Homo sapiens: one gene and its partners. The protein of the gene in region 4 purifies or fractionates together with the protein of the main gene of each other region. This does not show direct contact. Each region holds a gene or a part of one and is shown on either strand. Other genes may lie near its edges. The genes, in order: NHSL3, ACACB, WASF1, CSNK1G3 and CERT1.

What was found.
Region 1: the proteins of CSNK1G3 (region 4) and NHSL3 purify together in Homo sapiens (affinity purification with mass spectrometry; one large-scale study listed by BioGRID and IntAct). This does not show direct contact.
Region 2: the proteins of CSNK1G3 (region 4) and ACACB purify together in Homo sapiens (affinity purification with mass spectrometry; one large-scale study listed by BioGRID and IntAct). This does not show direct contact.
Region 3: the proteins of CSNK1G3 (region 4) and WASF1 purify together in Homo sapiens (affinity purification with mass spectrometry, with the first as the bait; one large-scale study listed by BioGRID). This does not show direct contact.
Region 5: the proteins of CSNK1G3 (region 4) and CERT1 purify together in Homo sapiens (affinity purification with mass spectrometry; one large-scale study listed by BioGRID and IntAct). This does not show direct contact.

Annotation. Positions count from the first base shown.
Region 1 is NC_000001.11:32,765,280-32,769,566, reverse strand, and holds part of NHSL3 (NHS-like protein 3), read right to left. Parts: intron 3,941-4,287; exon of another isoform or gene 3,798-3,940; coding exon of another isoform or gene 3,740-3,797; intron 1,781-3,739; coding exon 1,610-1,780; intron 1,506-1,609; coding exon 1,450-1,505; intron 916-1,449; coding exon 792-915; intron 1-791. UniProt on the Homo sapiens protein: Able to directly activate the TNF-NFkappaB signaling pathway.
Region 2 is NC_000012.12:109,234,635-109,238,921, reverse strand, and holds part of ACACB (acetyl-CoA carboxylase 2), read right to left. Parts: intron 3,610-4,287; coding exon 3,553-3,609; intron 3,317-3,552; coding exon 3,275-3,316; intron 1,758-3,274; coding exon 1,542-1,757; intron 1-1,541. UniProt on the Homo sapiens protein: Mitochondrial enzyme that catalyzes the carboxylation of acetyl-CoA to malonyl-CoA and plays a central role in fatty acid metabolism.
Region 3 is NC_000006.12:110,172,555-110,176,841, forward strand, and holds part of WASF1 (actin-binding protein WASF1), read right to left. Parts: intron 1-4,287.
Region 4 is NC_000005.10:123,515,177-123,519,463, forward strand, and holds part of CSNK1G3 (casein kinase I isoform gamma-3), read left to right. Parts: intron 1-4,287. UniProt on the Homo sapiens protein: Serine/threonine-protein kinase. Casein kinases are operationally defined by their preferential utilization of acidic proteins such as caseins as substrates. It can phosphorylate a large number of proteins. Participates in Wnt signaling.
Region 5 is NC_000005.10:75,379,529-75,382,992, forward strand, and holds part of CERT1 (ceramide transfer protein), read right to left. Parts: intron 2,550-3,464; coding exon 2,421-2,549; intron 1,674-2,420; coding exon 1,544-1,673; intron 1-1,543. UniProt on the Homo sapiens protein: Shelters ceramides and diacylglycerol lipids inside its START domain and mediates the intracellular trafficking of ceramides and diacylglycerol lipids in a non-vesicular manner.

The DNA of each region.
Region 1 (4,287 bases), on a different chromosome or scaffold from region 4:
TCAAGTAGGTATGGGCAAGGCTAGGTTAAACAAAGCTAGAGGCTTCTTTCTGTAAGACTAAGGCTACTAAGTCAATGATGGTAATTTCCCTTTAGTGATAGCTTACTATTTAGTAAACATATTATTACGTGTTAGTCGTCATTCTAAACATTTGGCATTCATTCCAATAGGGTACTTATCCTCATTTTTATAGAACATCAAACAGAAGTTCAGAGAGGTTAAGGGTTTTCCCAAGGTCACACAGCTGGCACTAGTTAGTTACACCAGGCTTCCAACAGTTAAGATTTTCTAACTCTTTTTTTATTTTTTTTTTGAGATGGAGTCTCACACTGTCGACCAGGCTGGAGTGCAGTGGTGCAATCTCGGCTCACTGCAAGCTCCACCTCCTGGGTTCACGCCATTCTCCTGCCTCAGCCTCCCAAGTAGCTGGGACTACAGGCACCCGCCATCAGGCAAGGCTAATTTTTTGTATTTTTAGTAGAGACGGGGTTTCATTCACCGTGTTAGCCAGGATGGTCTCGATCTCCTGACCTCGTGACCCGCCCACCTCGACCTCCCAAAGTGCTGGGATTACAGGCGTGAGCCACCGCACCCGGCCGCCAAGATTTTCTAACTCTTAACTGCTTTATAGTTAGTGTGTATCACGAATGTGCAAGAGGACACAGGGTACTGTGTTTCCCGAATTCATTGAATCAGAGAGCCTGGTGAAACACTGGATAAGGAGGAAAAGAAGCTACAGATGCTGGGACCCAATGGAGCCCACTGTCCCTCTCCCCTGCCCATGAATCCACCTTTGCGCTGGATCATCTCCGAGCGGATGGAGAGCGCGTCCTCTGCTGTGGAGCTCTCAGCCACGTAGGATGTGGTCTGACTGCAGAAGGAGATGTTGTCTTCATCCGGCCCCGTCCGGGAGGACTATCAGGGTAGAAGGAGATCTGGGTGGGGCTGTCTCCTCAAGGCTCCCCATTGGAACTTTTTTTTGAGACAAATCCAGCTCAGGCTGGAGTGCAGTAGCGAAATCTTGGCTCACCACAACCTCCGCCTCCCAAGTTCAAGCGATTATCCTGCCTCAGCCTCTCAAGCAGCTGGGATTATAGGTACCCTCCCACCATGCCTGGCTAATTTTTGTATTTCTAGTAGAGACAGGGTTTCACCACTTTGGCCAGGCTGGTCTCAAAATCCTGACCTCAAGTGATCCGCCCACCTCAGCGTCCCAAAGTGCTGGGGTTACAGGTGTAAGCCACCTCGCCCAGCCTCCCACTCGAACTTTTGAGTCACAGATCCCCTCCAGCATCACCTAGCACTGAGCAACCCTGAACTAGCCCTCAGGGTTCATTTAGTGTAGCCCTTTGTGATAAAGAAACTGAGACCCAGAAATGTTCCAAGACATCCTTGCCAGGGGTCAAGCAGGTAGAGAAGAGTCAGGACTGAGCTGGAGGCAGGGCTCACCTGGATACTCTGGGTGTCTCCATGGTCCCAGCCACCCTTGTTCAGTTTCTGTTTCTCTGGAAGACACCAGAAGGGTCTGTTGGGTTAGGCCCCTGACCTTGACAGCTGACAGTGCAGCACTGGAGGGAGGAGAGGGGAGGGGAGTGGAGAGGAAGCTTACCTTGGTGTTGTAGGGAGCGGAGCCCCTCCTGGGCCTGAGTGTGCAGCTCTTCCAGGTGGGGGGGTCGCCCACTGGGAAAGAAGACGTTGTCCTGGTGCTCATCCACTGCAGACCCTGGCCCCTGGCCAGGCCCTACACTTAGATGTTTGTCATTCTCAGCCTTGGCAGAGCCTAGTAGGAGGGAGGAGGAAGGGAAATGAGGTAAAGGCATCTGGGCCCTGCAGGGGCACAGGTCTCACGGCAAGGGCAGTCATGGTCCCCAGACTGCACACGGCCATTGCATATACAAGCAATGCCCCCTTCCCCAGTCTGGACACATAACCCACAGTTCTGGAGTAAACACTCAACACACACAGCCCCCATATACACAAACTACACCCAAGTGTACATAAATCTGAGTACCCACACCACACAAAGGGCCCCATATAAGGCCCCACACACAGGGCACACAGGTACACAGGTCTACTGTGTACGTACACAGCACTCACAGATGTCATTCATGTATATAAACAAAGGGCATCCGAGTATAAACACACATAGGTACACACACCAAGCACACCCAGCCCGCACGTAAACACACAACACCCACAGTCCCTGCTCTGTATATACACAAACAGTAACCAAGTATACACACGACTATGTACTCACACGTCACTCAGAGCCCCACAAAAAACATCCCGAGTATACACATAGCCCATAGTAAATACATTGCTCTCGCCTCCATACCCAAAACCCCACTTCACAGGAAAACAAACCACTCTTTTCATGCCACCACTTGAACCAGGTCCAGGAAGAAGATATCACGGGAAATCAGGAAGGAGAGACAGCTGGCATGAGTTACAACCATATTCCCAGAAAATCCTAGGGGGGATGCAGACCAAGGAGATAGCCTCCTGGGTCCCCTACTCACCCATGTGGCTGCCCCTTAGTGGAAGGATGGGCAGGGGAGGGGAGAAGAAAGACCCAGGCCCCTCCACCCGCCCAAGGGAGCTCCAGTCTCTCTTGGGGAAATAGTCCCAGGTATCCCCCTCTCCTGGAGGCCCTGGCCCTGGCCCTGGCCCCTGTTGCAGAGGAGCCAGGGATCCATTACAAAGGATCCTGTTACAAGCCCCGCCTGTGGAGGGGCTGGCCATCTAATCCTGGGGATGGGGGGCTGTGTCAGCACTTTGCAGCCCCAGCCCCCCCTTTAAATGAAACCCACAACATAAGCAAAAGCGCTGGAAGGGTCATGTGACCTTGGTAACACCTTATAAAGGGACGGGAACAAAACAAGCCCTTTAAAGGGCCATGCTCCAGGAGCAGGGTCTTCAGTTCAGAAACCTGCCTTTCCTCCTCCCTCAGCCCATTCGTCAACAGCCAGAGCTCCTGCCCTAGGGAGTCTGCAGGAATCCCACAGGTCAGAGCTAGGAGGCCCCCAACAGATCCAACCAGACCAGTGCCCGAGATCCCCAGATTTTACAAGTGGGGAAACGGTTCAAAGGGGCAAGGCCTTGCCTAAGGTCACCCAGCAGTAGGAGTCAGACTGACCCTGGACTCAACTCCAGGTTCCCAGAGGGGACTCCCGGATCACACTCAGAGTAGGGGCCCCCAACCCTCAAAAGTCCAATAAACTCTTGTCCCTATGTCTTAATCCAGGTCTGAAAGCCCAATTCCTAGGAGAAGGAAGGAGGAACAGGCCCCTCCCTCCAAAACTTCTCCATTCCCAGGCCTCTAAACAGGATTTCACTGAGCAGGCTTCCCAACTTCCAGTGGTACTACTCTCCTCTCTTCTGGGCCGCCCACGTCCCATCCTCCCCGGCACACTAGGAAAGGCTAGTACATCTTGACTGGGAGGCTGTACCCAGTAAAGTGTGGGTACCCCGGCAGGGAGGCAAGTCTCACGGGAGGGCTGCAGGCTTCAAGGTCAGAGACACCTGGATCCATCCTCCCAACCCACAAGCAGGGCCCAGACAAAGGCAGCAACAAAGCGGCTGGACAAAAGCACAGCCGGATGGGAGATTCTGGCCTCATTATCAGCCCCCAGCCCCACCCCATTACTTTTGCCCAGCCTTGATTCCTCATTCTACATAAGGGTCTGGGAAAGGGAGGCATCGAGCATCCCTCCCCTCCCCCCAAGCCACACCCACTCACCCTTCTTCTTAAACAGCCCTAGGAGCGCCGGGAGGCGGCGGCCAACGAACACCACCATGACTGCGGGCGCCACTCGAGACGTTCCCTATCCCACCCTGCCTCTCCAGAGCAGAGCGCGGGGCGTACCTTCACTGTAACCCAGCACTATGGGGATGCGAGCCCTCCCGCCCCGCCGCAGAGCACCGGCTCCAGACAGAGGAGGGGGAGGGGCTGCTCTCCATGTCCTCCTCCCACCTTCGCCACTGATCCCGCCCATCTGCCGACCCCACCCCTTAAATGGGGTGCAGGGGCACAGAAAGGCAACTGAGGCCAGGAGTCCGTGGGTGCTCTGCTCCAGTAGAGTATGATTAGGAGGACCGAAGATACTCAATCCAGCAGCAGATCACTCACCCTGCCTGCAAGTCCAGAGTTAAGGCAGGGGTCCCAGCTGCCAGATGGTAGGTGGAGGGGCTACCAGACTAGACTTGGCAGGGTGCCCACCTGCAAGCCTCCTGGCTGCCTAGCGTAATTCCCTGGGGAAAGAGCTCGGAGCCTGCAGCAGCCAGGCA
Region 2 (4,287 bases), on a different chromosome or scaffold from region 4:
AAACATCTAGCTGACAGGTAGCAAAAAAACTGCAGTTAGCTTAATATCCATCAATAGGGCCAGGCGTGGTGGCTCACGCCTGTAATCCCAGCACTTTGGGAGGCCGAAGTGGGCAGATCACCTGAGGTCGGCAGTTTCAGACCAGCCTGACCAACATGGAGAAACCCCATCTCTACTAAAAATACAAAATTAGCTGGGCATGGTGGGGTGTGCCTGTAGTCCTAGCTACTCAGAAGGCTGAGGCAGGAGAATTGTTTGAACCCGGGGGTGCGGAGGTTGCAGTGAACTGAGATTGTGCCATTGCACTCCAGCCTGGGCAACAAGAGCAAAACTCCATCTCCAAAAAAATATATATATATAATAATTATATATACATTTATATAAATATATATTTATATAAATACATATAATATGTATTATATTATGTATATATAATGTTATATAACATATTATATATTATATTATGTATATTATATGTTATATTATATAATATATTATATATATTATTATATATAATTATATATATAATAATATATATATGTTTCCATCAATAGGGGATTAGTAAAAAAAAAAAAAAAATTATACACGGTACATCCATGCAAGGAAATAATATGTGGTGGACCACTCTTTATTAACAATGAAAGAGGTCCACAAGTGACTGACCAATTAAAGAATAATATATTCAAATGATCTGTCCACTCTCAGCTCTTATCTGCAACTTATGCCTACAACTCTAGGTTTCAGGGACGGAATTGTGTCTAGAAACAGTCAACAACTAAGCTGGCCCCTCAGTGACAGGATTCTCGGTCCTTGCGCTAGGTTCTTAAAAATCGTTTTCAGTCTTATTTAAAATTTTCACAATATAATCATGGATTACTTCTGTTTCTTTTTTTCTTTTTTTTTTTTTTTTGTGATAGGGTCTCACTCTATCCCCCAGGCTGAAGTACAAGGGCTCCATCTCAGCTCACTGCAACCTCCGCCTCTCAGGTTCAAGCGATTCTCATGCCTCGGCCTCCTGAGTAGCTGGAATTACAGGTGTACGCCACCACGCCCAGGTAATTTTTGTATTTTTAGTAGACACAGGGTTTCACCATGTTGGCCAGGCTGGTTTTGAACCCCTGACCTCAAGTGATCCGCCCACCTCAGCCTCCCAAAGTACTGGGATTACAGGCATGGGTCACTGCACCCGGCCATGGATTACTTTTCTAAATGCAAGAAACAATGGAAAACGATCACTCAGTCAGCAAATATTAAGAAATTCCCTGAACAAACCAGTATTTTTCTATCCTGGAAATTTTCTTCTCATGCGCAGAGACCCACATAATACAAGAAACAGATCCAAGTGCCACCAGCCTGGACGTGATCACAGGCCACTTTGCTGTCCGCCTCCTGCCCTGGACTGGAGCATAGCAAGGGCAGGACCCTGGGTGTTGGTGTACTCTCCATCCCCAGCATGCAGCCCAGGACCCAGCACAGAGCAGGAATGTAAGGAAGGGAGGGCCAGGTTCTGAGAGAGGAAGAAATGCTCTGCGACATCTTACCTTTGTGATCAGGTCAGAGTGCCTGATGATGGCGCGGATGAAGAACCTATGGTCCGTCACTTCCACACCTTCCTTCACCTTGGCAGCACCCAGGTAAAGGTGCATCTTGTGGTTGGCACAGGGCACGGCGGTCAGATCGAAGTTACGCATCCGGTTAAGTTCCAGCTGGAAGGCCAGGGCAGGTTCCAAGTGACGGTAAATGCGATCTTCTGCAAACTGTAGGCGGACCAGAGAGAGAAGACAGACACATACACACACAGCGTGACGTTGGAGCTGCGTCCCTGCTTGGTCCACACCCTACTCTGCAGACCCCTGGTGTCCATGGGTTTGGCACTCAGGAATGCAGCATTCATGATGTTCCCTAATTGTAAGCTACCCCCAGGGCTCCAGATATTTGGGGTTTTGCTAAGATCTGAGGAGAGCTATGGGCATTGCAAGCCTGTTGTGCTGGGTGCAGCGCTGGCTCCTGGGGGAACCTAGCTAGTCCCTATCACCTGCCAGCGTGACCAGGCTGTTCTCCATCTGTCACAGCCTGTGGCAATTCTCATGAAGCCACTAACCCCTGGTTTCTTGGTGGAAATTGGTCCCCGAAAAGAAAGCAACTGACAGTACTGGAAACTAAACTGAAAAAAAAAATGAAGACATTAAGAAAAGGATGTGTCTTAGCTAGAAAAATAAAGCTTTGGATAAATTAAAATGCAAAATGCTGAATTTGGTGGGGTCTTGAATCAGTGCTGGGAATAAACCTACCTGTTCTACAACAGGGATCGGTAAACGTTTTCTTAAATGGCCAGAGAGTAAATGTTTTAGGCTGATGGATCATACGGGCTCTGTCACAACTACTCAATTCTGCTACTGTTAGAGTGAAAGCCAGAGTAGACAATGTGGAATCCAACGGGTGTGGCTGTGTTCCAATAAAACTTTATTCGTAAAAACAGGCAGCTGGTCTGCAAGTGAGTTTGCCAACCACTGTTCTAGACGAGCATAAGAAAAACAGTTTGGAAAAAATGTCTTACTGAGTACATCAGCAAGTACTGAAAATTATTCAAGCAAGACAGAAACCTGTAGTGAGGCTGAAAGGGCAAGATTCTCAGGTCTGAGTGCCATGCAGGGAACAGAGGGCTCTCAATGGAAATACAATCCCAGAGGAAGACTGCAGTCTACACAAAAGTTGCTACATTCTTGAATATGGGGATGCCTTAAGGACTGCAGACTATATTCTTCATGAATATCAAAGATGCCAGGGAGCTGGGAGGCACGGTGGCATGTGCCTATAGTCCCAGCTATTCGGGAGGCTGAAGCAAGAGAATCGCTTGAGCCATAAGTTCGAGTCCAGCCTGGGCAACATAGTGAGACCCCATCTCTTTTTTTTCCTTTTTTTTGAGACAGAGTCTCACTCTGTCACCCAGGCTAGAGTGCAGTGGAATCACCTTGGCTCACTGAAACCTCTATTTCCCAGGTTCAAGCAATCCTCCCACCTCAGCCTCCCAAGTAGCTGGGACCACAGGCTTGCATCACAATGCCAGGCTGATTTTTTAATTTTTTTGTAGAGACAGGGTCTCACTATATAACCCAGGCTGGTCTAGAACTCCTGAGCTCAAGCAAACCTCCTGCCTCAGCCTCCCAAAGTGCTAGGATTACGGGCTTGAGCCACCACACCCGGCCCCATCCCATCTCTTAAAAAATAAAACAAGATGCTAGAGAAGAGAAAACATCATTACTTTTGGCCATACCTCATCTCTTGCTCTGAATGTGAAAAACTTGGGAAATTCTTTCTGCAAAAAGAAATCCACACACAAGACAATTAAATCAAGCAAGACGCACTGAAATATGTACATCCTTATTTAGTGATTGTAAACGATTACATTCACTTCTAGAATGAATCATTTGGAAATCCTTCTCCTTTCTAATGATCTCTTTCACCCAAATCTACAAAATAAATATCAAATAAATGGCACACACCAAGGCTTGGAGAATGGGAAAGACTCATAGAGATGAACTGTGAACTAACCTCTTGGGCAATCAAGAATGTGATTCGTCGGAGTCCATAATCCACAAGGATATTTTTCTGCATTAAAAACCAAAGACACAATGGAATATTATTTGGCCGTAAAAGGAACTGAAGTATTGCTGCATGTTACCACACGGATGAACCTGTAAACATTATGCTAAGTGGAAGATGTCAATCATAAGAGACCTCCTGTGATCTGATTCCATTTATATGAAACGTCCAGAATAGGCAAATCTATATAGAGAGAAAGTAGATTAGTGGTTGCCTAGGGCTGTGGTGGGGAGAGGGTTTTTGGGTTGGGGACAGAGGGGAGTGACTGCTAACAGGTACAGGGTTTTTCTATGGAGTGATGAGAATGTCCTAAAATTGATTCTGGTGATGGTTGTACAACCTGGTGAATATACTAAAAATATATTAAATTGTACACTTTTTTTCTTATTTCTTCTAAAAAAAAAAACAGGATACATGTGCAGAACGTGCAGGCTTGTTACACAGGTATATATGTGCCATGGTGGTTTGCTGCACCTACCGACCTGTCCTCTAAGTTCCCTCCCCTCGGCCCCCACCCCCCGACAGGCCCCGGTGTGCGTTGTTACCCTCCCTCTGCCCATGTGTTCTCAATGTTCAGCTCCCACTTATGAGTGAGCACATGCGGTGTTTGGTTTTCTGTTCTTGTGTTAGTTTGCTGAGGATGATGGCTTCCAGCTTCATCCATGTCCCCGCAAAGGACATGAT
Region 3 (4,287 bases), on a different chromosome or scaffold from region 4:
ATAATTAAAGAAAATTTAAATGCAAACAATGAAATACTACTCAGCCATTAAAAAGAATGAAATAATCTCTTTTGCAGCAACATGGATGGAACCAGAGGCCATTATCCTAAGTGAACTAACTCAGAAACAGAAAGTCAAATACCATATTTTCTCATTTATAAGTGGGAGCTAAATAATTTGTATACATGGACATAAAGAGTGGAATAATAGATAATGGAGACTCTGAAGAGTGGAAGGATAGATGGTGGGTGAGGGGTGAGAAATTACTTAATGGGTACAATGTACACTATACTAAAAAGCCAGGCTTTGCCACTATGCAATATATCCATGTAACTAAACTGTACGTGTACCCTCTAAATCTATAAAAATAATTTTAAGAAGTGAGTGCTAGTCTTCATCCTCGACTAAAATATAAAATGCTTCACTGTTCCTCCCTTTTCGTTTAACCCTTTCACAATTCTCTGGCATAACCTGTAGCACATGCATGTTATAAAAATTTAGCAAATTTAACAAATTTAGCAAGATGTCCCTATTAAAACAACTAGAAAACAAACTTACTTTTGTAGCATAAGGTGAAAACATAACACACTTGACTTTTTTGGTAAAGGAATCAAACAAGTTATTCCATGCCCTGACACATAAGCTTTTCTTCTTTTCAAATAAGTTAGTCAATGTAACTTTATTGGAGTAGACCTGGCTAGGTTAGGAATAAAGAATGGCTACATGCTGGACTAACTACTATCAAGCACACCAAATTAAAAAAACAAAAAAACAAAAAAACTTTGCTGTCATCATCATCCAACAGATGTCATCACACCCAAAACCCACCTACTTAGAATTTCTTTAGGACCTTTAGTTTAAGAAATGGTACCTTTGCAGCATAAGGGAGTAGGAAAAAAATGGGACTTTGAAATCACACATATCTGTGCTCAAATTCCACCTCCATTTCTATTAGCCATGTGACCTTGAGCAAATTACTTGATCTATGAGAGGACTCAGTTTGCTGGTTGACAAGTACCACAAATACAATTCTAACAGTTTACGCAAAAAGGAGGACTTATGACAAAGGTAACTAGGATGTCTCTGGAACCCAATCTCAGGACCATGGACAAAGGAACTCAAATACAGTCAGGACTCTGTGCATCTGCTTCTTTGCACTCTTTGTTCTAGAAGCCCTGGCTTATCTAGCCCACAGGGCAAGAAACAAGGCCATTAACAGTTCCAGAGTTTTGTATCTCACAGCTTCAGCAACTGAAGAGAAAACAAATTATTCAACCTCTGGGCATGGAGGACCCAGGAAAAGTTCTGAGTGACTTGGCTTAGTAAAAAAGTGTCTAAAACCAGGCCAATAAACCACAGAAATGAACAGAATTGTGATTGGTATCTCTGGCCCCTTCCAAGCCAAAGTGATCTTTACAAAAGACAGATCTGATCCAGTAATTAACCCGATTAAAACTCTTCATGGCCTTCCCCAATAGACTTAAAATCCTTAACCTCGTTAAACCAAACCTCACGTAGGCCCTCTGCATAGTCTGGCTTCTGTTTACCTCTGCAACCTCATATCAAGTCACAATCCCTCTTACACTAAGCTTTAACTGTTTCACCTGTTCTTTGAATTCTCTTCCTTTTCCACCTAGCTAACTTCCACTAATCTTGCCTCTAAGAAGCCTCCCCTGACTCCCAGTGTAAATCCAGTTCCCTCTTCTTTTCCTTTACAGCATTCACCAAAATTTCTAAGTACAAATGTATTTGTTCAACACCTGTTTTTTACTATACTGTTAACTCCAAGAGAATAGAGACCTGTCCTTTTTAGCACCTACTTGGCCCTCAATAATTATGTGCTGATTATGAACTATGAATCACTGGTTTAACAAGGGGGACCCACTAAATGAACCAATTACAAATGAGGGGACAGTAGCAGGCAGGCAGAATTGTTATTATCAAGTTATTAAAATGACTGCTCCAACAGAAACTTATCAGTAAAAGGGGAGATAAAGCAGTTCTGAAACAATCTGGGCTTCCGCTAGGCAGAACAAACAACTTGTTCAATTCAGTTAACCTTTTTCTTCAATTAAATCCTTATAGGGCTATGATAGCAATTAAACAAGATAAATAATAAATGTGACAGCATCTATACAGAATCTTGTACATCTAGCAAGCAAGCAATGTCACTTCTTTTCCTTTTGGACCATGTTACACATTATTTTTGAATATCACTGATCTCCAAATAATTATTAAATACTCCAATGCATATGACAAAAATAGCTGTTTCATGACCTCTTCCCTCACAGCACCCTGATCTTTCCACATGGAACAGAATGACTTCTCTTTTATTCTGTAGTAATTGCATACACTCAAAATCCATTTAGCTTAAACCAAAAACAGGCACTGGGAACACAAAAATGAAGCAAAGCAAAACAAAACAACCAAACGCTTACAACAAAACTGTCCTCAAGGAGTTCACAGATTCACTTTCTCAATCTGCCTTCAGCTCCATCACATCCATACCAAAGCTCCATAGCACCCCAGGTAAGGCTGCTACAAATACAAGATGCCCCGTATTTTATGGGGCAATAATCCATCTTTATATCTTCATACTCCCACTTCATGACCTCATTCCAAAATTTTTTCCTTAAAAAAATTCTATGGAGACTGACTGGATATGATCTTTCTTCAAAGTATGAATAAAATCTACCCTGACTTTACCAATAGCTCAAAATAAGGAAACAAAGGAAACAATCCAAAAGAAAAATCCTGTTTCTTGACAGTGCTGGGAGTTTATTTTTAAAAATTAAAACAAACAAAAAACCCATCACAAAAATAACGCCTTTAAGAGACTAAAAAATCTTGCTTCTGAGAACAGGCACGTGTGAAAGGATCAAGACTACTTTCTTTTTCAGAGGTAGGTCCAGAAAGAAGAAATGTCCTCATAAGAGGGACGTAAGCGGTAACTTTAGGGAAAATGAACTCTCAGGAAAAAAAGGGGGTTACACCAAGCTTCGAAGTATCTTAGAATTTTATTTGTAGCTAAAACAGATCTCCGAAGTCATCTACTTCTACCTTTTCATTTTATAATCAAACATCTTGAGAAGTAAAGTCACGCAGAAGACTGCATTTCCTTCTAATTTTTGTCATGCCCTAACTTCTTGTCCCAGATAATGTAAGCCTATGCCACTCACTGAACTGAGAAACAGCCTCCTCTTCAAGTCCACTGGGTGAAAGAGAACAAGTTCCTAATAATGTTGTCATGTCTAACACAAGAGTTACAGATCCTAGCATTTCAGGGTACATCTGAAACTTATTTTTCCCATAGAAAGACTGTCATACAAATTATTATAGGTATTTTAATATACTTATGCTAATTATTAACATAATTTTATAATTTCTTTAGTATTAACATAATCCTATAATTCAGGTATTTTATTATTTAAATAGGCTTTAGTGGGCTGTCTGTGACTCTAACCACTAAGTATACTGTTTCTGAGAAAATAAGACTCAAGTTCCAAACCATTTTACAAGTTGTAAAATGTAATCAATTGTGTAGTAAGTTAGAACTACCAATTCACAAAGACTCAAAATTATAAGCTGAATGTGATAAACTTAAAACACAAGATTCTTAATTTTATAAAAAGTTCCACTTCAGGGGTCATTTATTTTTAACAACTAGGTACTCAAGCATTCAGCATAGGATTTAATTTACATATATCTTTTTTATTACTATTTCACTAGAAAACGTAAGTCACAAAGAATCAAACACACTTCTATCTAGTGTAGGAAAAACAAAAAATATGTTAACATACATCTTCATAAAGTGAGCTATAAGAAGAAAATTGTTAATATTTCATAAATCAAAGACTACTAACATATACATTATTAAGTATCTAGTGCCAGTTCAAAAGTGTACAGGTAATGGAATTATATCTGAGCAGGTAAATGGAGTTCAAAGAACCTTGAAATTCATTTTTCTCTTTTCTCCTGAGATAAAGTTATACATTTCATTAATTATAATGTTTGATAAATCTTTAAAAATGTTTCACTAAATATATTAATTCAATGGATATTCTTTACCCATTCATTTTATTTGTTCAACAAAGAAAATTGAGCCCCTGCTATTTGTTAAACACTATACTAACAACTTTGGATTTATGACAATAAGCTGCAGGTCAGTTTCTCTCCTCAAAGAACTAAGAAAAACCACGACTTTACTGCATTTACCCAAGTGACGGTGTCAGCTAAATTTTAATTCATTTAAGAAAACATTATAAAACAAATTCTCAAAAACGAAAC
Region 4 (4,287 bases):
TCTCCAGTTACTTCTCTGTGTCTCCTCTGATCCATCCTGTAATCCTCTCCATGCTGGGAGTAGACTTATTCTGGTATAGTTTATTGTTTCAGATGTTTTTCAGAATGGAACAAGCGGTTGTTTTGTTCCAAAGGGCTTCCCAAAAGGATGTGTCAAATTAAATAGAAGGAATGCTGAAGTATTGAATAACAAAATATAGGTCATTGAATAGTTATATTATTGTTAATAGTGAGATTTGCTGTGGATGAGATGAAATGTAAAGAATGTATATTTTCACAGAAAGTGGTTTTAATGAAGTAATTATAAAAGAATCTGTACGTGAGGAAAATTGATAGTAACAGAGGGATGATAAGATGAGAAATTTTCACAGTTCGGGATTAACGTGTGTGAGGTTTTTAAGTCATCTTAAATATTAGACGACCCTAAAATAATGTAACCCCACACTTAATCATTATCAAAGGAGTGCTTAGAAAAAAAAATCAGTTTATAAATGCAAGTAAAATCATGTTACAGGGAAAATTGTTTGAAGTTTTTTTTTCTTCTCCTAATTATTCCCCTCTTAGCTTCCCTAATTATTCCCCTCTTAGTATTCAAAAAGGACTTATAACTGAATTTGTGTTCCCTTCAACCTCCCAGTAACAACAATACCTCCTATAATTTATTAAGTGCCTACTTTGTATAGAGGCCATAAATGATACTATTACGACAACTCTGAGTTAGGTGGTGTAACCTCATTTTTGAGAGCAGGAAACAGTCTTCTAGAGTTTAAATAATGTGTTGAAGATATATCTTGGAAGTAGCAGAGTGCATATTTGAGTCAGTTTTTTTTTCTGACTTCAAAGTCTTAAGCCACCAATGATCTGTTTTTTCTTATCTTCCATCTTCATCCTTTTTTTGGTCTTTTCTCAAGCGGTTGGCAATTCGTGGTATTAATTGATAGTATGTGTCTGAGTGTTGGTTCTTTATGATGTAATTTCTTCAGAAGCGGTAGTTTTGAGGTATCTGTCTTTAATTGTGGGATCCTGTAGGTGCAGACAGTATGGTTCTGGTAATTTAAGGCACCTCAGAGCATCACCTTTTGCTGATCTGCAGGACAGAACTATGCTTGGATTCTTAATGTGTAGAAATCAAATGTGCTTTAATAATGTGAAATGATTTTCAAGGGCATCTGAACTGCTCAGGAAATATGGAATGGGAGATAAATGTAGAAATATATAACTTCTAGCGACATGGTGGAGGCTGCTGTTAGACATTTTTTCTTTTTTTTAAGCTCTCTCTGAAAGCTGAGATTTAGCAACTATAAATGTTTGGGCTTCCCTTCTATTATGAAACCTAAGGAAAGTATGTGTTTATTTGTTGTTAGACCATAGTGATTGGTTATACTCTCTCCTGCCACTTCGTGCTTATCATCTTAGTTATAAGAAATAACTCTTAACAATGAATTGAAGTGTTTATGTATTGGGGAGATAAGACACACTTTTTTGGTCGCTTTGTTTACCAATGATATATTACATAGTTGTAATTTATTGAAAATTTATGAGTAAGTTATGTCCACATGGCTAAATCATGTCCGCATTTTTCATAACTTTTCAATGGAATGAGAGATGGTCTCATGATACTCTTTTTCTTAAATACAAAGTTTAATGTTTTTTTTCTCTAGGTTAGTAATGTGAGGTTGAAGTTGTATTCAAATTTATTACATTTATTTAGATCACTTTGTGTTACCTGGAAGTACTTTCTTCAGTTGATAGCTACATTTGGAAAAAAAGGGAAGAGAGTTACCCTGTTATTCTGCCATTATATTCTTCATCAAAATGGAGGAAATTCATATGAAGTGCCAAGGACTATGTGATGCCTGCCACATAGTAGGCACTGTGTAAATCTTCTGTCCTTCATTTCAGAAGTTGCCGATAAGAATTTTAGAGGGTGGATTGGTGGGTAGACAAGCAAAGACTCTCGGGAACACCCTATTACAGGAAAATCTCTCATACCTGACCTCTGCTTAACCCACTCGTGAGATTAAATGATAGTCTTCATTCTCTCTGTAGAATTTGCTGACTGATGCTCATGCTACATTGAATGACAGTAGACTATTCTTTAGTTTTATCTTGAACTTTTATTCCCCCCAGTTACTGTAGACTTACCAAGAAACATTTGTGTTTGTACCCAACACACTGTTATGGCACTTGATGTTGTAATCACATAGTTTAATGAATTATTATTCAGTGAACTCTGAAGATAAAAAGGCGTTTGTATGAGAACCAATTGGCTACTTTGAAATCAAGTGAGTAGCCAAAATCAATTATGGTTGAAATAGATGAGGGTTAAATAATTTTAAATGATTAGGGAAAAAAAAACAAAAAACACCTAACGATCTAAAAAAATCTGCAATAATATTATTTTTCACGTTTGTAAAATGTCTTTCTGTGTTTAAGAAACAGAAACTGGAAATCACAGGTGTTGTTTTATGGGGGTAGTTTTTGCAAGAAAAAGGAAATAGAACTTTCTTCGATAGACCCACACTGGAAGAAAAGGCCATAGCTCTGTATTATAAGATTGTCTTGTGAATGGACATTTTTGTTTTAGTTGTAATAAAATGTATAGAGTTTGTAGATGTTGAGAAATGATTTCCTTTTTAGGCTAACTTCAGAACCATTTATTAATTGTAATATATTAAAGAAGTCTGCTTCTAAAACATCATCTTTCCTAGTTTACACTACTGCTTAGAGATTTATTTAATAACATCCTCTTTAAGAAAAAAAAAAAAAAAAAGGAAGATCCTGTTATTCCCAGAGGTTCATTCCTTAGAGTGAATTGTTTATCTAGTCAGGTGATCAATCTATGGTTCTCACATATTTCCCAGTATGGTCCCTAATCTGATTTCATAAGCTACCTTTCAACTTTTATGTACTGTCAGGGTTGAAGGGGTAAGCCTTCTTATAGTTCCAACATCTCCATCCAATTAGGAATGCTGGGGTAGAGGAGATTGTTCTTTGAAGGAGGAAATGTGACACCCTTGATATATACCAGGAGCACTTGAGCCTCCTATCTCACCTAGCTCAGTCCAAATGGAAAGGAGAACTTTCAGTTGAAGGAGCAGGAAGTCCAGGTTGGAGAAGGAGTGGTATATGTGGTATGCTATTTATTTTGGTGTAACCACATTGCTTGCTGAATTACAGTAGATGCTGAAATGGCACATTGAAGTATGAAGGTAGGGTGGGTGGCTCCAAGCTAGTACTTGAGAGCTCTGGTCTGCCCCTCTGTGATTTTCTTGGCTGTTTGTCTTCTGTGTGTTGGAGTCATCCTAAGGCCAGCAGCAAGATCACATCTAGACATGCACTGGCCAGAGGATGGAATGGATCTCTCTCTCTCTTTCTGTCTGTGTCTCTGGAAAAGCAAATACATCTTTTGCATAAGCCTACCAACATATTTTTCTCTTCGTATCTTATTGACCAGAATTAGGTCACATGAACGTCCTAACTAGTTATCATAAGGGAAGTAAGGTTATCATGGTTGGTTTCTACTAATCAGGAGATACCTTCTGCAATTGGTGTTGGGATCACATTTTTCTGAGTTAGATGGAAGAGGGAGGATATTTTAAAAAAATTGTGGGAAGGAAGAATTTGGGGGATATGGATGTTAGAGAGATGATAAATAGTGATCGCTGTGTCTACCTGTTTTGAAGCGATTCTCGTGCTTCAGCGTCCCAAGTAGCTGGGATTACAGGTGCATGCCACTGCACCCAGCTAATTTTTGTATTTTTAGTATACATGGGCTTTCTCCATGCTGGCCAGGCTGGTCTCGAACTCCTGGCCTCAAGTGATCTGCCTGCCTTGGCCTCCCAAAGTGCTGGGATTATAGGCTTGAGTCACCGTGGCTGGCAAGTTACTTTTTGAGACGGAGTTTTACTCTTGTTTCCCAGGCTGGAGTGCCATGGCATGATCTCGGTTCATTGCAACCCCTGCCTCTTGGGTTCAAGTGATTCTCCTGCCTCAGCATCCTGAGTAGCTGGGATTACAGGCAGTCGCCACCTTTCCTGGCTAATTGTTGTATGTTTAGTAGAGACGGGGTTTTGCCATGTTGGCCAGGCTGGTCTTGAACTCCTGACCTCAGGTGATCTGCCTGCCTCGGTCTCCCAAAGTGCTGGATTACAGGCATGAGCCACTGTGCCCGGCTGGGTCTGAATATTTTAGGAGCTAAAAACACTACTTTATTTTTTCATTGGCTAACTTTGAATCAATAAAATAGGTGGTGAAGTTGAAAGATTATAATTTTTTTCTATGAAAC
Region 5 (3,464 bases), about 48 Mb from region 4:
GAAGCACTTAATTTGTTCCCTTGTTTTTAAAATATTCCTCACATTGGACCAATTAGCATCTTTTTTTTTTCTTTTTGAGACGGAGTCTTGCTCTGTTGCCAGGGTGCAGTGCAGTGGCGCGATCTTGGCTCACTGCAACTTCCGCCTCCGGGGTTCAAGTGATTCTCCTGCCTCAGCCTCCGGAGTAGCTGGGATTACAGGTGCACGCCACCATGCCCAGCTAATTTTGTATTTTTAGTAGAGATGGGTTTTCACCATGTTGGCTAGGATGGTCTCGAACTCTTGACCTCATGATCCGCCCGCCTCAGCCTCCCAAGGTGCTGGGATTACAGGCTGAGTCACTGTACCCAGCTGGACCAATTATGATCTTTTAAGTCCCAACCCTTCATTCCTTAACACTATCCATCAGACATAATCAGACAGCAAATAAGAAAGCATCTATAACCTTTCTACAATGTTCTTAGTTCCCGAAATTACCTGCAAAAATTAGTATAGCACCACTTAAGGTTATTTAGGGCAGATTATTCACAAATCTGTACTATAATGAAATAGTAACTTACTCAGGTACAACTGTTTCTTTGAACATACTAGCAGTTATGGCCCTGTATAAAGAAGGTATGACTTTTGATGAGAGAGGTTGCAATGATTACTCCAGGTGCAAAGCAGGTGAAGTAAGGACCCAAAGCAAGCAATGAAAAGACCTATCCAAAGTGAAACAAATATATGTAACTAGCAACTAATAAGGACTAGGGAAACGCTGACTCAGAAAACAAAAAGCCTGACAATGAATGTCAAAGAGAAATAAATATGTAACTAGCAACTAATAAGGACTAGGGGAACATTGATTCAGAAAGCTAAAAAGGCTGACAATGAGTAAAAGAACTCTTAATTTCCTTCCCCACTGTTGCTTATATTCCTAATAATAAATCTGTTCTATGAGGCAAATATCTAAGAAAATGGTGCTTAATATGAAGGCTAGGTCGAGCGCAGTGGCTCACGCCTGTAATCCCAGCACTTTGGGAGGCCGAGGTGGGTGGATCACGAGGTCAGGAGTTCAAGACCAGCCTGGCCAAGATGGTGAAACCCCGTCTCTACTAAAAATACAAAAAACTAGCCAGGCGTGGTTGTGGGCACCTGTAATCCCAGCTACAGAGGCAGAGAATCGCTTGAACCCAGGAGGCGGAGGCTGCAGTGAGCTGAGACTGCACCACTGCACTCCAGCCTGGGCAACAGAACGAGACTCCATCTCAAAAAAAAAAAAAAAAAAAAAAGAAGGGTATATACAGTGACCTAGGGATAAAGTTTTAAAATTTTCCTATCCAGCTCTAGCTTCAGAAATACTCATATAGTAGTAGTTCCAGGGTGAAATTCAGACATCTGTACTTTCAAAGATTCTCTAGTAATTCTGATATACCTTTCTCCAAATTAAAAATTAGTAATCTAATGGATAAGAACTAAAAAGGCATTTGTCCAAATTGTTGTCATATAGGTCATGATCAAGAACAGCCACATTATCAAAGAGCAAAAACAATAAAATACATACCATTAGCTACATATGTAATCTTGCATAGAATGTTGTCCCTGCTAATTTCCTGGTTTCCCTCTGGTGGGCTTACCAAGGTTTGACAAATCATAGCAACATTTATTTTGGCACGGACACATCGGTTGTTTAGCTGCCAAAACAAAAAACAAAGCATCAGTAGATACCCAGTATTTTGTAAACTCTGCTGGTCTAATATTATATTAGGTTAACCAAAATCGTAACTCTTAAAAGTATCTCCAGTGAAATCTTATAAGCACCAAGCTGATATGACACCAGGATTCCTCCCCACCCACTTTTTCTGGGGACAAGGTCTTGCTCTGTTGCCCACTCTGGAGTGCAGTGGTGCCATCATAGTTCACTGCAGCTTCAAACTCCTGGGCTCAAAGCAATCCTCCCGCCTCAACCTCCAGAGTAGCTGGGACCACAGGTGCACATCACCAGGCCTGGCTAATTAAAAAAAAAAAAAAAATTTTTTTTAATAGAGATGGGGTCTAACCATGTTGCCCAGGATCCCTTCCTCTTAAGTAGTAAATGGAGCTAAATTGTGGTAAACCACAGAGGTTTGGCTGGCAGTTGATAACGGCTTAAGAGATAACTGTGGGAAGTAGCCTACTGCCCAGTGTATGTACTGCCCTTTTGGCTGTTTCACGAAACATTAGAAGGAAAGGTAAACGGCCCTGGTGGAATGTTCATAGGCATGACTGTTGCCCTCAGACAACACATGGGCTATACTGTTCCTAGCAGTCAATCCAACATAAAATCTAAGAACCATTATCAAATCAAGTATAGTGTATGGGCTGTGTTTATCATTTTTGTCCCGCATTGTGTATTTAGCTTTATATTGTTTAATTATACACATTTATATACATGTACTTACAGGAGCACTGTCATGATCCACAGAAAAATTACAAACTATCCAAGTTTCAGGGTCATTTTCAGTCAAGGCTGGTATCTTTCGAATGACAGAAAGATATAATACGTCTCGCTGAGAAGCAGGCCACACCCTCTGTGGAGAAGTAAAAATCTTTTGAAAAACAGATCTAACATGGAACTAACAAGAGAAACGTAATGCCAATAAATGTCTTAATTGAAGGTAAAATCTCTCAAATTTTAAATGGAAAGCATCTGAGGATATCTACCAAATGATTAATTATGAACAGAGTTAATAGCTTTGCAGAACAATATAATAAAAGGAATAATGTTCTATTTTTTTAATTGCAGTAAAATATATACACGTATAATTTGTCATTTTAACTAACTTTTAGGGTACAATTCAGGGACATTAATTACATTCACAGTGTTATGTAACCATATTGCTATCTCTGAAATTTATCATCATCCCAAACAGAAACTCTGTACCCAGTAAGCAACAACTTTCCATTCCTCTCTCCTCATACTCCATGATTATGTTCTACTTAGATTCAAAGATTTAATGAAAAAAGACTTATTTGAATCAAATCACATTAGAAAGAATTCTAAGTCACTTAGATTAAATATTTCAATATTAAGGTATGCAAGGGGAAACATATACTATGGGAATGACATGGAGCCTAGGTCTTCAATAAATGGGACTACCTACTTTAAATGAGAAAAAAAACCTTTTATCCTATTTAAGTTACTTTTATTTTGGTTATCTCGTATATGTATCTGGACTAGTCCTTGTTATGCAGCGTCATTCCTGATTACTGAGAGTAATAAATAGCATACAATACAAATCATTTGCAAGATGAAATGATTCATTTTTTAAAGATACAAAATTTCATGTAGTTGATAAATATAGTGTTGGGTAAATTGTGTGGAGACAGTAAGTAATACATGAAGATTTGGCAAATTTAGACCTAATGAATACAAATCCACAGGATGATAAGATAGAAATTTAAAGAATGAGAATGACTTAAATATCAAGAGACCAGTAGCCCTC